Linked DNA regions of Homo sapiens. The main gene of each other region encodes a partner of the protein of the gene in region 2 in a complex. Each region holds a gene or a part of one and is shown on either strand. Other genes may lie near its edges.

Region 1 (3,648 bases), on a different chromosome or scaffold from region 2:
GTAGCTGGCATTACAGGCGCCCACCACCACACCCGGCTAATTTTTGTATTTTTACTAGAGACGGTGTTTCACCATGTTAGCCAGGCTGGTCTTCAGCTCCTGACCTCAAGTGATTCGCCCACCTCAGCCTCTCAAAGTGCTGGGATTACAGGCGTGAGCCACCATGCCTGACCCTTCCGTAATTTTTGAATTTTGAATATATCACCTATTCAAGAAAAAATGTTAAAGACAAATGTTTAAAAATATCTTGAAGCAGTTTAAGAACAGGTCTGTTTTGCAAAATGTAAGAGGAGTTGTTTGGCCATACCCTCAAAGCTTATCATTCTGAACTTCTTTAGGACAGAAGGGGTTTATAGAGACTAGGGAGCAGGTCTTTGCACCATCGTCTCTTGTTTCCCAAACTAGTAGTTCAAGTACTAATATCATGATTTTTTAAAAAAAATTAAGTATAGGCTGGGTGCGGTGGCTCACACCTGTAATCCCAGCACTTTGAGAGGCCGAGGTGGGCGGATCACGAGGTCAGGAGATCGAGACCATCCTGGCTAACAGGGTGAAACCCCATCTCTACTAAAAATACAAAAAATTAGCCGGGCGTGGTGGTGGGCGCCTATAGTCCCAGCTACTCGGGATGCTGAGGCAGGAGAATGGCATGAACCCGGGAGGCAGAGCTTGCAGTGAGCCAAGATCGCACCACTGCACTCCAGCCTGAGTGACAGAGCGAGACTCCATCTCAAAAAAAAAAAAGAAAATTAAGTATAATATTTTGTGTAGGTTCTGTTAGGTTTGCATGCATTATTTAAGTGGTTAACACTAGACCTGTAAGGTAGGTACTGTTTTCTTCCCCCTTCTAGACACTTAGGAGGTTTAGAGACTAAGTTCCTTATCCAAGATAACAAAGGCATTAAGTGGCAGAGTTAAGATTCAAACTCAGGTTTCTCTGACTCCAGAGTCTCAATCATCACACTATATTACTACCTAATATGCTAATCTTGCTTTAGGAACATGGGTTGAAAAATTCCAGTGCTCACTTATCTTGACTAAATTTTTTGCACTGTGGTGCAGGCAGAATGTGGTATAGTCATTCAAAACATTTTAAGTGTCTAGACCTGAGAGCCTTGTGGGTTTAAAAACCTGAATGGGAGAAGTAAGAAGGAGAAATTAACAGTTTTTCAATTTTTTTCCTGGAGAGCAGATCAAACAGATGATGGAGGCAGCAACACGACAAATCGAGGAGAGGAAAAAACAGCTGAGCTTCATTAGCCCCCCTACACCTCAGGTATTGTGTCTAGATTACTCTGAACAGAATAATCTTTGGCACAGAATTTCTTGCCATCCACTCAAAATGAGAGACTAGAAGAGGTGACTACATGTTTCACTTCATAATCATCTGCTACAGTCTACCATGATGTGTGTGTATATCTGTGTGTATGTATGTGTGTTTGTCTGCCTGTCTTAATTCCTCTGATTTCTTTTTCTCTATCTCACAGCCAAAGACTCCTTCTTCCTCCCAACCAGAACGACTTCCTATTGGCAACACTATTCAGCCCTCCCAGGCTGCCACTTTCATGAATGATGCCATTGAGAAGGCAAGGAAAGCAGCTGAACTGCAAGCTCGAATCCAAGCCCAGCTGGCACTGAAGCCAGGACTCATCGGCAATGCCAACATGGTGGGCCTGGCTAATCTCCATGCCATGGGCATTGCTCCCCCGTGAGTGTCTATTTCATGGAATACCTTTTCATTTCTGAAGTTTGAGAAGCAATAAATACCTTTGAATGTTACTGATCTGGCTGGGCGCAGTGCCTCAGGCCTGTAATCGTAGCACTTTGGGAGGCTGAGGTAGGTGGATCACCTGAGGTCAGGAGTCAGGAGTTCGAGACCAGCCTGGCCAATATGGTGAAAACCCATCTCTACTAAAAATACAAAAATTAGCCAGGCGTGGTGGTGCATGCCTGTAATCCCAGCTACTCGGGAGGCTGAGGCAGGAGAATCGCTTGAACACAGGAGGCAGAGGTTGCAGTGAGCTGAGATCGTGCCACTGCGTGGGTGACAGAGGGAGACTCCGGCTCAAAGAAAACAACAAACAAAATATTACTGATCCTCTTTTTCCACAGAACCTAGATCATTTCTCACAGTTTCATATTTCTTAGGTGTGATTGATTAACCAGTTGAATTTTTTCTCGTCTTCCCTGTTGGAGGGTTTATTATCTTCTTATGATTTATATAACTGAGATTAAGGTTATTCATCTAATGTTGGAGCTAGGAGTATAGCCAGGTTTCCTTCCTGGTTTCAAACTCAGATTTATCCATTAAACCACATTGTGTGAGACTAGATCTGAGGTTCCTCTGCAACTGGTCAAAGATGTTACATTTTTTTTAGCATCTACAGTTGGTCTGGCATCCCATGAGTGACATAAGAATTCAGGGATAAGGAAAGATAGGATTATAAATTCATATAATTTATAAACTCATTTCATTTGGTTGTCCTGTATACTGAAATATCCACTTTGATATTTTTAATCAAGATACTATTGGCAGGGCGCGGTGGCTCACACCTGTAATCCCAGCACTTTGGGAGGCCGAGACTGGCAGATTGCTTGAGCTCAGGAGTTCAAGACCAGCCTAGGCAACATGGCAAAACCCCATCTCTCTAAAATATACAAAAATTAGCCAGGCATGGTAGAGCATGCGTGTAGTTCCAGCTACTTAGGAGGCTGAGGTGGGAGAATTTCTTTGGGCCTGGGAGGTTGAGGTTGCAATGAGCTGTGATTGTGCCACTGTACTTTAGCCTGGGCAGCAGAGTGAGACCATGTCTCAAAAAAAAAGATGGTATTGCTCACTGATGAGATTGTTCCCTAGAATTATTTTATTGTCCTTTTTGTTGTTGTTGTTGTTGAGAGGGAGTCTCACTCTGTCACCCAGGCTGGAGTGCAGTGATCTCGGCTCCCTGCAACCTCTGCCTCCCAGGTTCAGTAGCTGGGACTACAAGTGCCCGTCTAAATTTTGTATTTTTTGTAGAGATGGGGTTTCACTGTGTTGCCAAGGCTGGTCTTGAACTCCTGGGCTCAAGCCATCCACCCGCCTCAGCCTCCCAAAGTGCTGGGATTACAGTGTGAGCCACCACACCCGTCCATCCAAATAACTCTTATAGAGAAGGCACTGCAGCCTCAACTTCCTGGGCTCAAGTGATCCTCCTCAACCTCCTGAGTAGGTGGGACCACAGGTATATGCCACCGCACCCAGCTAATTTTAAATTTTTTGTTGAGATGCAGTCTCCTTGTGTTGGCCAGACTGGTCTTTAACTCCTGGGCTCAAGTGATCCCTCTGCCTTGGCCTCCCAAAATGCTGTGGTTCCAGGCTTGAGCCACCACGCCTGGCTTTATTTTGTTTTTTGCTTGCCTTAATGTTCCATACAGGATTTATTTCTTTGCGGGCTATTTTTCAGGAAGGTGGAGTTAAAAGACCAAACGAAACCTACACCACTGATCCTGGATGAGCAAGGGCGCACTGTAGATGCAACAGGCAAGGAGATTGAGCTGACACACCGCATGCCTACTCTGAAAGCCAATATTCGTGCTGTGAAGAGGGAACAATTCAAGCAACAACTAAAGGAAAAGCCATCAGAAGACATGGAATCCAATACCTTTTTT
Region 2 (3,648 bases):
CAAAGCCACTGGCCTTCTCCCTGGGGAGCAAGAGAAGCAGGTGAGGTGATATCCTGCCATTTCCCAGCACACTGCTAACCTCCTGGAGGTGGCTGTCTGGGAAACACCACAGGAAATCACAGAGGCATACAAGAGATGAGCTCAAAGGGTTGTGACAGGTCCCTCTAAGAGAGGAGAATCCTCACCAGAAAAGCCCCTCCCAGGTAGGGAAGTAAGTGCCCTTAAAGAGTGTGTGTTCCAGAATGCCTTCCACACCGCCCAGGGCCTGGATCATGTCTGTACGGTAGTTGTTCAGGTTCCAGAGCTTCCCATCATGCCGCTGGTGTGTCCACCAGAACGGATTCTGCTTCAAAACCTAGATGGCAAGGCAGGCACGGTCAAGCTTCTGGGTGCCTATTGCCCCAAGTTTCGGGGATAGCCATGGATTTTCCTGACTCAGGGAAAATCTGCTCCCTCTACATACCTGATACTGCTTAAAGTCAGTTCTGACACGCCAGCCCTTATCATAAGCCAGTGTGTGCCGGTCCTTCTGGAAGAGGGTATTGATTCGAGGAATGCCACGATCCCATGAATCTTCTAGGTCTTCTAAAGTCAGGCGTCTTCCAAAAAAAGAAAGATTCAAGTCAAAACGTGATCTCATATGAGGAGCTCAGCACTCCTTCCTGGCCAAAAATAATTAGGGTCAGTAGAACCAGCCTTCTCACCTCCATACAACCATGGCATGCTCTGACCCTGAACTCCACACGGTTCAAAGGCCACCACTGCCCCTGCCCCAGGGTTGGCATGCCCTCCTAGGTGCCCACCTGTTCTGAGCAATGGCCTCTTGCCTCTTGAGTGCGTACTCAGCCCAGACCCGCTGAGAATCAATGAACTCGCTCTCCCATGGCTGTATGTAGCGGTACAAGTTGGGAATGAGCTGGTCTTCTTCATGGCTCATTCCTGAACGAAAGTGTGTGATACCTACATCTGTCTGTTTGGACCACCTGTTTGGGTGTACAACCAAGATTACAGAAAAAATAAAGCCTAAAACTAAAGAAATACCCACTTCCCTTAGGGCCTGAGCAATAGGGTTTAGAAATACGTTGAACCAGGCTGTACCTGAGGTCGGATTGGGGGATGAGCACATGGCCCATTGAGAGCATGCCGAGTCCACCCAACTCCTTAGGGGTGTAGAACACAACCGGGGGGAACCGACTTGGCATCTTGGAGTTGAGTCCAATCTTGATACGTGTCTGGATTTTGTTCTCACACTTCACCAGTAAGTCCAAGAGCTCTTGGGTGTTCACCACAGCCTCCCGAAAGTATGTCATAAGGCCAATGAGAGCTGTATTCCACTTATTCACAATCTAAAGGTAGTAGAAAAAAAAGTAAATTACAGATGAGCCAGGGGCGGGGAGGGTGGAGACTACTTGATGCAGTTAGTTTTATCCCTACTACTAAAGAAAGATTTGAGTTCAACATCATTAGTCACTAGGGAAATAGAAAGCAAAACACAATGAGGCTGGGCGCGATGGCTCATGCCTATAATCCCAGCACTTTGGGAGGCCAAGGTGGGAGGACTGCTTGAGCCCGGGAGTTGGAGACCAGCCTGGCCAACATGGCAAAACCCTGTTTCTACTAAAAATACAAGAATTAGCCGGGTGTGGTGGCAGACGCCTGTAATCCCAGCTACTCAGAAGGCTGAGGCAAGAGAATCGCTTGAACCTGGGAGGTGGAGGTTGCAGTGAGCTGAGATTGTGCCACTGCATTCCAGCCTGGGCAACACAGCGAGACTCCATCTCAGGGGAAAAAAAAAAAAAAATGGTTCCCCTGGGCCAGGTGTGGTGGCTCACGCCTGTCATGCCAGCACTTTGGGAGGCCGAGGTGGGTGGATCACCTGAGGTCAGGAGTTCAAGACCAGCCTGGCCAACATGAAACCGTCTCTACTAAAAATACAGAAATTGAACCCAGGAGGCAGAGGTTGCAGTGAGCTGAGATCGCACCACTGCACTCCAGCCTGGGAGACAGAGCAAGACTGTGTCTCAAAAAAAAAAAAAAGAAAAGAAAAAGAAAAAAAAAAGCACACCAGATGGAGCTATACAAACTAGTGAAGAACACCAGAAATGGTAAGTATGTGGGTAAAATGCAAAAAAATATTTTTTCTCATTTTGCAATTTCTACAAAAGATAAAGGCTGTTCAAAGCAAAAAGAGTAACAAAGTATTATAGCACTTATAATACATGTACAATTAAAATGTTATGACAAAAATACTACTAAGAGTGGGAGTGGAACTTAAAGTGTATTATTCTAAGGTTCTTGTACTATATGTGAAGTGATCCGTAGTAGACTAATGGTCAAAGTAGATCACAGTAAGTGAGCTATGTATATACTGTAAACCTTAGAGCAAACAATAAGAAAAAAACCATGTAGCCAAATAAGTGAAAAGTGGAGATAAAGTCACAAAACAACTAAATTCAGAAGAAGGCAGGACAAGAGAAAAGCAGAAAAAATAATTTAAAAAAAAAAGAGTAAGACGGTAGATTTAAACTGAGCTACATTGCCACATTGATAGTTACATTAACCTTAATTGAGGTATTTAGACCATTTGTAAGGCAAACATTGTCAAATTGGATTTAAATAAAAAGGCCGGGCATGGTGGCTCACACCTGTAATCCCAGCACTCTGGGAGGCTGAGGCGGGCCTCGGGGTCAGGAGTTCGAAACCAGCCTGGACAGCATGGTGAGACCCCCCGTCTCTACTAAAAATACAAAAATTAGCTGAGCGTGGTGGCACGCGCCTGTAGTCTCAGTTTCTTGGGAGGCTGAGGTAGAAGAATCGCTTGAACTCGGGAGGCAGAGGTTGCACTGAGCCAAGATCATGCCACTGCACTCCAGCCTGGGCAACCAAGGAAGAGACTCCATCTCAAAAAAAAAAAAAAAAAAAAAAAAAAAAAGAGCCAACTATATGCTGTCTATAGGAAATAAACTTTAGTTACAAAGACACAGATTAACAGTAAAAAGATGGAAAAATACACCCATGCAAACACAAAACAAAGCTGGAGTGGCACTACTGATTAAGACAAAGACTTCAGACCATGGAATGTTATCAGGAATACAGAGGGATATTTGATACGATAAAGTAGTCAACTCGTTCAGAAGACCTAATAATCCTAAATACATTATGTAACTAATAACAGAATTTCAAAAATGATGGACCTGAAAGACAATAAACTCACAGCTGTAGTTGGATCTTTCTCTCAAGCAAGACAGGGTCTTGCTCTGTTGCCCAGGCTAGAGTGCAATGGCACCATCTCCACTCATTGCAGCCTCCACCTCCCAGGCTCAGGAGACTCTCCCGCCTCAGCCTCCCAAGCACCTGGGACTACAGGCGTGTACCACCACACCCAGCTAATTTTTGTATTTTTTTTGTAGAAATGGGGTTTCGCTATGTTGCCCAGGCTGGTCTCGAACTCCTGTGCTCAAGCAATCCACCAGCCTCAGCCTCCCAAACTGCTGGGATTACTAGAGATTTCTAATACTCCTCAGTAATCGATAGAAGTATACAAAAAATATCACTAAGGATATAGAAGACTTAAGCAATGTAACCAACTGACTGGACCTAATGTTTGTAAAACACTCAACCTAACAATAGCAGAATACAGATTAACAG
Region 3 (3,648 bases), on a different chromosome or scaffold from region 2:
AGGGCAGGCCACATCCTGGACCCCACATGCCCCATCTCTAACCATCAATCAAGTGCCGCTGTGGCGGAGAGGATTCAGGCGACTGCAGATATCCATCCCTGTCCCCCACCCCACACACAAGGAGAACATCCCAGGCGAGGACATTGTAAATGCAAAATCTATACGATGGCAAGTAACTCTGAAGACTCAAGAAAAAGAGTTCCTCACGGACGGGACCTTTTATTCCAATCACCTCTCAAAATAGGTCTCCGAACGAGGACCCTGAAGAGAAGGCTATGCAGGGGGACGGGCCGCTGCCTGGCTCAGGGCTTCCCTCTGGTTTCTTCACGGTCCACAGATGCTACCCGGAGCCTTTCTCGAAAGCGCTGACTCAGTGTCTCAGGTGCGCGCCCGAGGAGTGGCAAACCCGGCCTGGCTCAGAAAGGGGGCAGGAGCCTCGTGAGAATCTTCCATGAGCATCTTCCGAGGGGATTCCTGTCCTGTCTTCTCTGTGTGAACGCCAGTGTGGACAGATGAGGATAGATGATGGAGTCCAGGCCACCCAGGAGGGGGTGATGGGGACCATGCGTGGCCCCTGCCTGGGACTTCCCTCCCCACACACCCCTTGGCATTAACGTCTCCACAGAGGGGAGAGGGTTATAGGACAACCTGGTGTGGGGGGCGCCGGGGACTCTCAAGAGCCCCCACTGTCCAGATGCTGGTCTTGCCTTTTGTAAAAGGACATCAGTGCCTCACTGTGCCGCTGACACCTGGTGAGAACTCTCAAAAGGAAGCTTCCCTTACGGGAACGGGGATTTCCTGAGAGTCCAGCGATGGACAGAGGGCAGGAGACCCGCTAGGTGCACCCAGAAGCTCAAAAGGAACAGTGGATGTGCAGTGTGTAGTTTTATTTGTTTTTATTTCCATAACACAAGAGAGGAAGCGAAGGGCCAGGGCCCGAGGCATCCCCTGCACGGTTCGAAGGCTTTCAACCGTCCCGGGTTTGTTTTGAAGGCAATTTTGGGGCCGCGCCCAAGGAAACCCTGCAGGCTGTCAGTCCCAGCATGAACAGCTTAAAATAAAAATCTCCCGTCTGGTTGCTGCTCGGAGAGGCTCCAAGAAATGCAAAACAAACCCGCCTGGAAAATGCTGCCCTGAGAACCAGAGCGAGGGCTTGAAAGATGCCTTCAACACAGACTCTTCTAGGAATCCAGCCAGTTTTGGGACGGCCGTTTCACAAAACCAAAAAACACCAAGTAACATTTCTAACCGGAGAATTGCCGGTTTTAGCAAGAAAAAGGGGCTTCACCTAAAAGGGAGGGTCACAAAACACGAAGGGGGTTCCCCCTGGCGCCTGCCTCTTCCTTTCTGAGCAGATCCGTCCGAGACTGTGGAGCGGAATCGCCACCCTGGCAGGAGGGGGCGCAGCAGCCGGTCTGGGTGGGCGCTCACTGTTTGCCCGCCTGTCTGCCAGGCTTCTTCTCTGGCTGGCCTCTGCCTGTGCCCGGGATCCCACCTCGGCCCCGGCCACCAAACACACCTAGAGGACAGAGAGAGGGCGCTGCAGCAGAGCCAGGTGGGTGGGACCTTCGACAGGATCCCGGCGCCCTGAAACTCTAGGCCAGGTCACCTAAGTCTCCAGCCTCAGCTTCCTCATGTGTGAGGTGGTGACTGAGGGTGCTTGGATCTCCTCCGTGGGGCAGAGCATCTGAGGAAGGCAGGAACTCCAGGGCATCCTCATTATGGGACTAGACCCAGCCCCCAGGGATGCGGGGGGGGGGGACTAGGCGACAGAGGACACTAAGTCACATTGGGGGTTGGGGCAGGCTTCCTAAAGGACAAAGCCAGAAGGGTTTCCTGGAGGAGGAGGAGGAGGTAGGAGAGGCGTGGAGCAGAGACCAGGGCAGTAGGCCAGGCTGGGGGCTCCCTGGCGGGGGGGGGGCCTCCTATGCGCCACAACCACCCACAGCCCCTCATCTACCTGCCAGGAGGAAAACAGAAAGAGGGATTTCTGTGTATCCAGCCCCAGGGATGGGGAAGGGGAGGGGACTCCCCAGCAGGCCTGAGGCCAGAGATAGACCATGAGGACAAATGACATTTTCCATGAAGCCCCTGAGGTGGGAGCATGTGGCCACTGGGGAGGTGACAGGGGGTTCCCGGGAGATGAGGGCCCCAGGGACTGAGTGGACGCTACAGCGGCACCTCCAGTAATCCTGAGCAGGCTGCACGCAGGGCACGCCTGTCCCCACACCCTCTGTGTGCCTGGCGCCCCTTCACGCCACCCTCACCACAGGCCAGGCCTGGACGCAGCAGGTTGGTCAGGCCGGGACCCAACATTGATCCCTCCCTCTCTGTCTCCCTTGGGGACCCCAGCTCTGTAAGCCCCGTTTAGGGAGCCGTTTCAGAGAACTTTCTAGCTGGACGAACGCTTGAGGAAATCAAAGCTGGAGCTTCAAACAGCAGGAGAGCCAAGGCCAGCAAGAGGAGCTGGCCCTGTGGCCCATGTGCTGGGTGCCAGGGGCCAGAGGCCAGCGCTGCAGGCAGCATAGCTCAGGCCCTCCACAGAGCCCGCTGGGAGGCTCAGTCGTGGGCCAGGGAGGTCTGGGGACAGGAGGACTGACCCCAACAGGAACTGGAATCACGGTCTACTCTGCAGACCTCAACCCCGTGAAGGTGGGGTCAGGGGTCCAGATTCAGAGGATCTAAGAGGTCAGGGCTCTCACCAGCCAGGGGCCACCAGGCCCTGTGGGGACAGAGGCCAGAGGCCAACGCTGGCCTGGGCCACCAACCTCCCCTCTCACCAGGCAGGACCAGCTGTGCTAGGGTGCACAGCCTGGTGGGGGTTACTGCGAGGCTGCTATCTGCACTCCATGGCCCAGTGGCTTCCTGCAGAGCAGCCAGAGAAAACCCCCCACTTCCCTAGGTAGGACCCGACCCACTCTCTCAACAACCTTGACCCCAACTACTGGGAAGGAGCCAGGCCGGGGACCCCAGAGGCCCCACCCACCCTGAGATCCCCAAAGCTCCCTGCCTGGAGTACTATCCCTGCCCCTCCCTCGGGCTCACTCCTGACCACCTCGTGAGCCTGCACAGAATTGGCGCCTGGGGCCTTCCGGGGGCAGCCATGCCGTGCTGCAAGCCCCCAGGCTGGCACCTGAGCCCAGCACACAGGCAGTGCCCATGGATGGCAGAAGCAAAGCCCAGGTCCCCCCGAGAACACAGAGCTGGGGACAGAGAGGTGAGGAAGGGCAGGGGCTACAGATGGCCCCTGGGCCTAACAAATGGAATTTTATGCCAATTCATCATCTCCGGTGGGGGCGGGCGACCTTGGCTCTGGATAGAGCCACGCCAGGTTCCAAGTGGAGTTGCCAGCGGCCTGGACAGATGGGCACCACCATACCCTCTCAGAGGGGAAACTGAGGCTTGGGGAGGTGACTTGATGTGCCCTGAGGACCGCCAGGAGGCGCAGTGAGAGGAGGGCTGAGTCCCAGGTCTCGGGGCTCCTCTGCCTGGGCCTCGGCTCATGGCCAAGGACCAGGAGGGGGGCCCGGGAGGGTTGGGAGGCTCCGAGGCAGCGCTGCAAGGGCAACCCCAAGAAGGAGGGATGCCACGTGTGGCTGTCTTCCCGCCCCAGGTACGTCCACTGGAGAGGGGAGACCCACCTCGGCC

The links.
Region 1: PRPF8 (region 2) and PRPF3 share a complex: the UniProt entries of both Homo sapiens proteins name them as parts of the U4/U6-U5 tri-snRNP complex.
Region 3: PRPF8 (region 2) and LSM4 share a complex: the UniProt entries of both Homo sapiens proteins name them as parts of the U4/U6-U5 tri-snRNP complex.

What each region holds. Positions count from the first base shown.
Region 1 is NC_000001.11:150,331,492-150,335,139, forward strand, and holds part of PRPF3 (U4/U6 small nuclear ribonucleoprotein Prp3), read left to right. Parts: intron 1-1,192; coding exon 1,193-1,276; intron 1,277-1,487; coding exon 1,488-1,708; intron 1,709-3,443; coding exon 3,444-3,648. UniProt on the Homo sapiens protein: Plays a role in pre-mRNA splicing as component of the U4/U6-U5 tri-snRNP complex that is involved in spliceosome assembly, and as component of the precatalytic spliceosome (spliceosome B complex).
Region 2 is NC_000017.11:1,660,808-1,664,455, forward strand, and holds part of PRPF8 (pre-mRNA-processing-splicing factor 8), read right to left. Parts: intron 1,347-3,648; coding exon 1,099-1,346; intron 984-1,098; coding exon 804-983; intron 600-803; coding exon 464-599; intron 356-463; coding exon 186-355; intron 21-185; coding exon 1-20. UniProt on the Homo sapiens protein: Plays a role in pre-mRNA splicing as core component of precatalytic, catalytic and postcatalytic spliceosomal complexes, both of the predominant U2-type spliceosome and the minor U12-type spliceosome.
Region 3 is NC_000019.10:18,306,037-18,309,684, forward strand, and holds the end of LSM4 (U6 snRNA-associated Sm-like protein LSm4), read right to left. Parts: coding exon 3,642-3,648; intron 1,520-3,641; coding exon 1,428-1,519; 3' UTR 200-1,427; downstream 1-199. UniProt on the Homo sapiens protein: Plays a role in pre-mRNA splicing as component of the U4/U6-U5 tri-snRNP complex that is involved in spliceosome assembly, and as component of the precatalytic spliceosome (spliceosome B complex).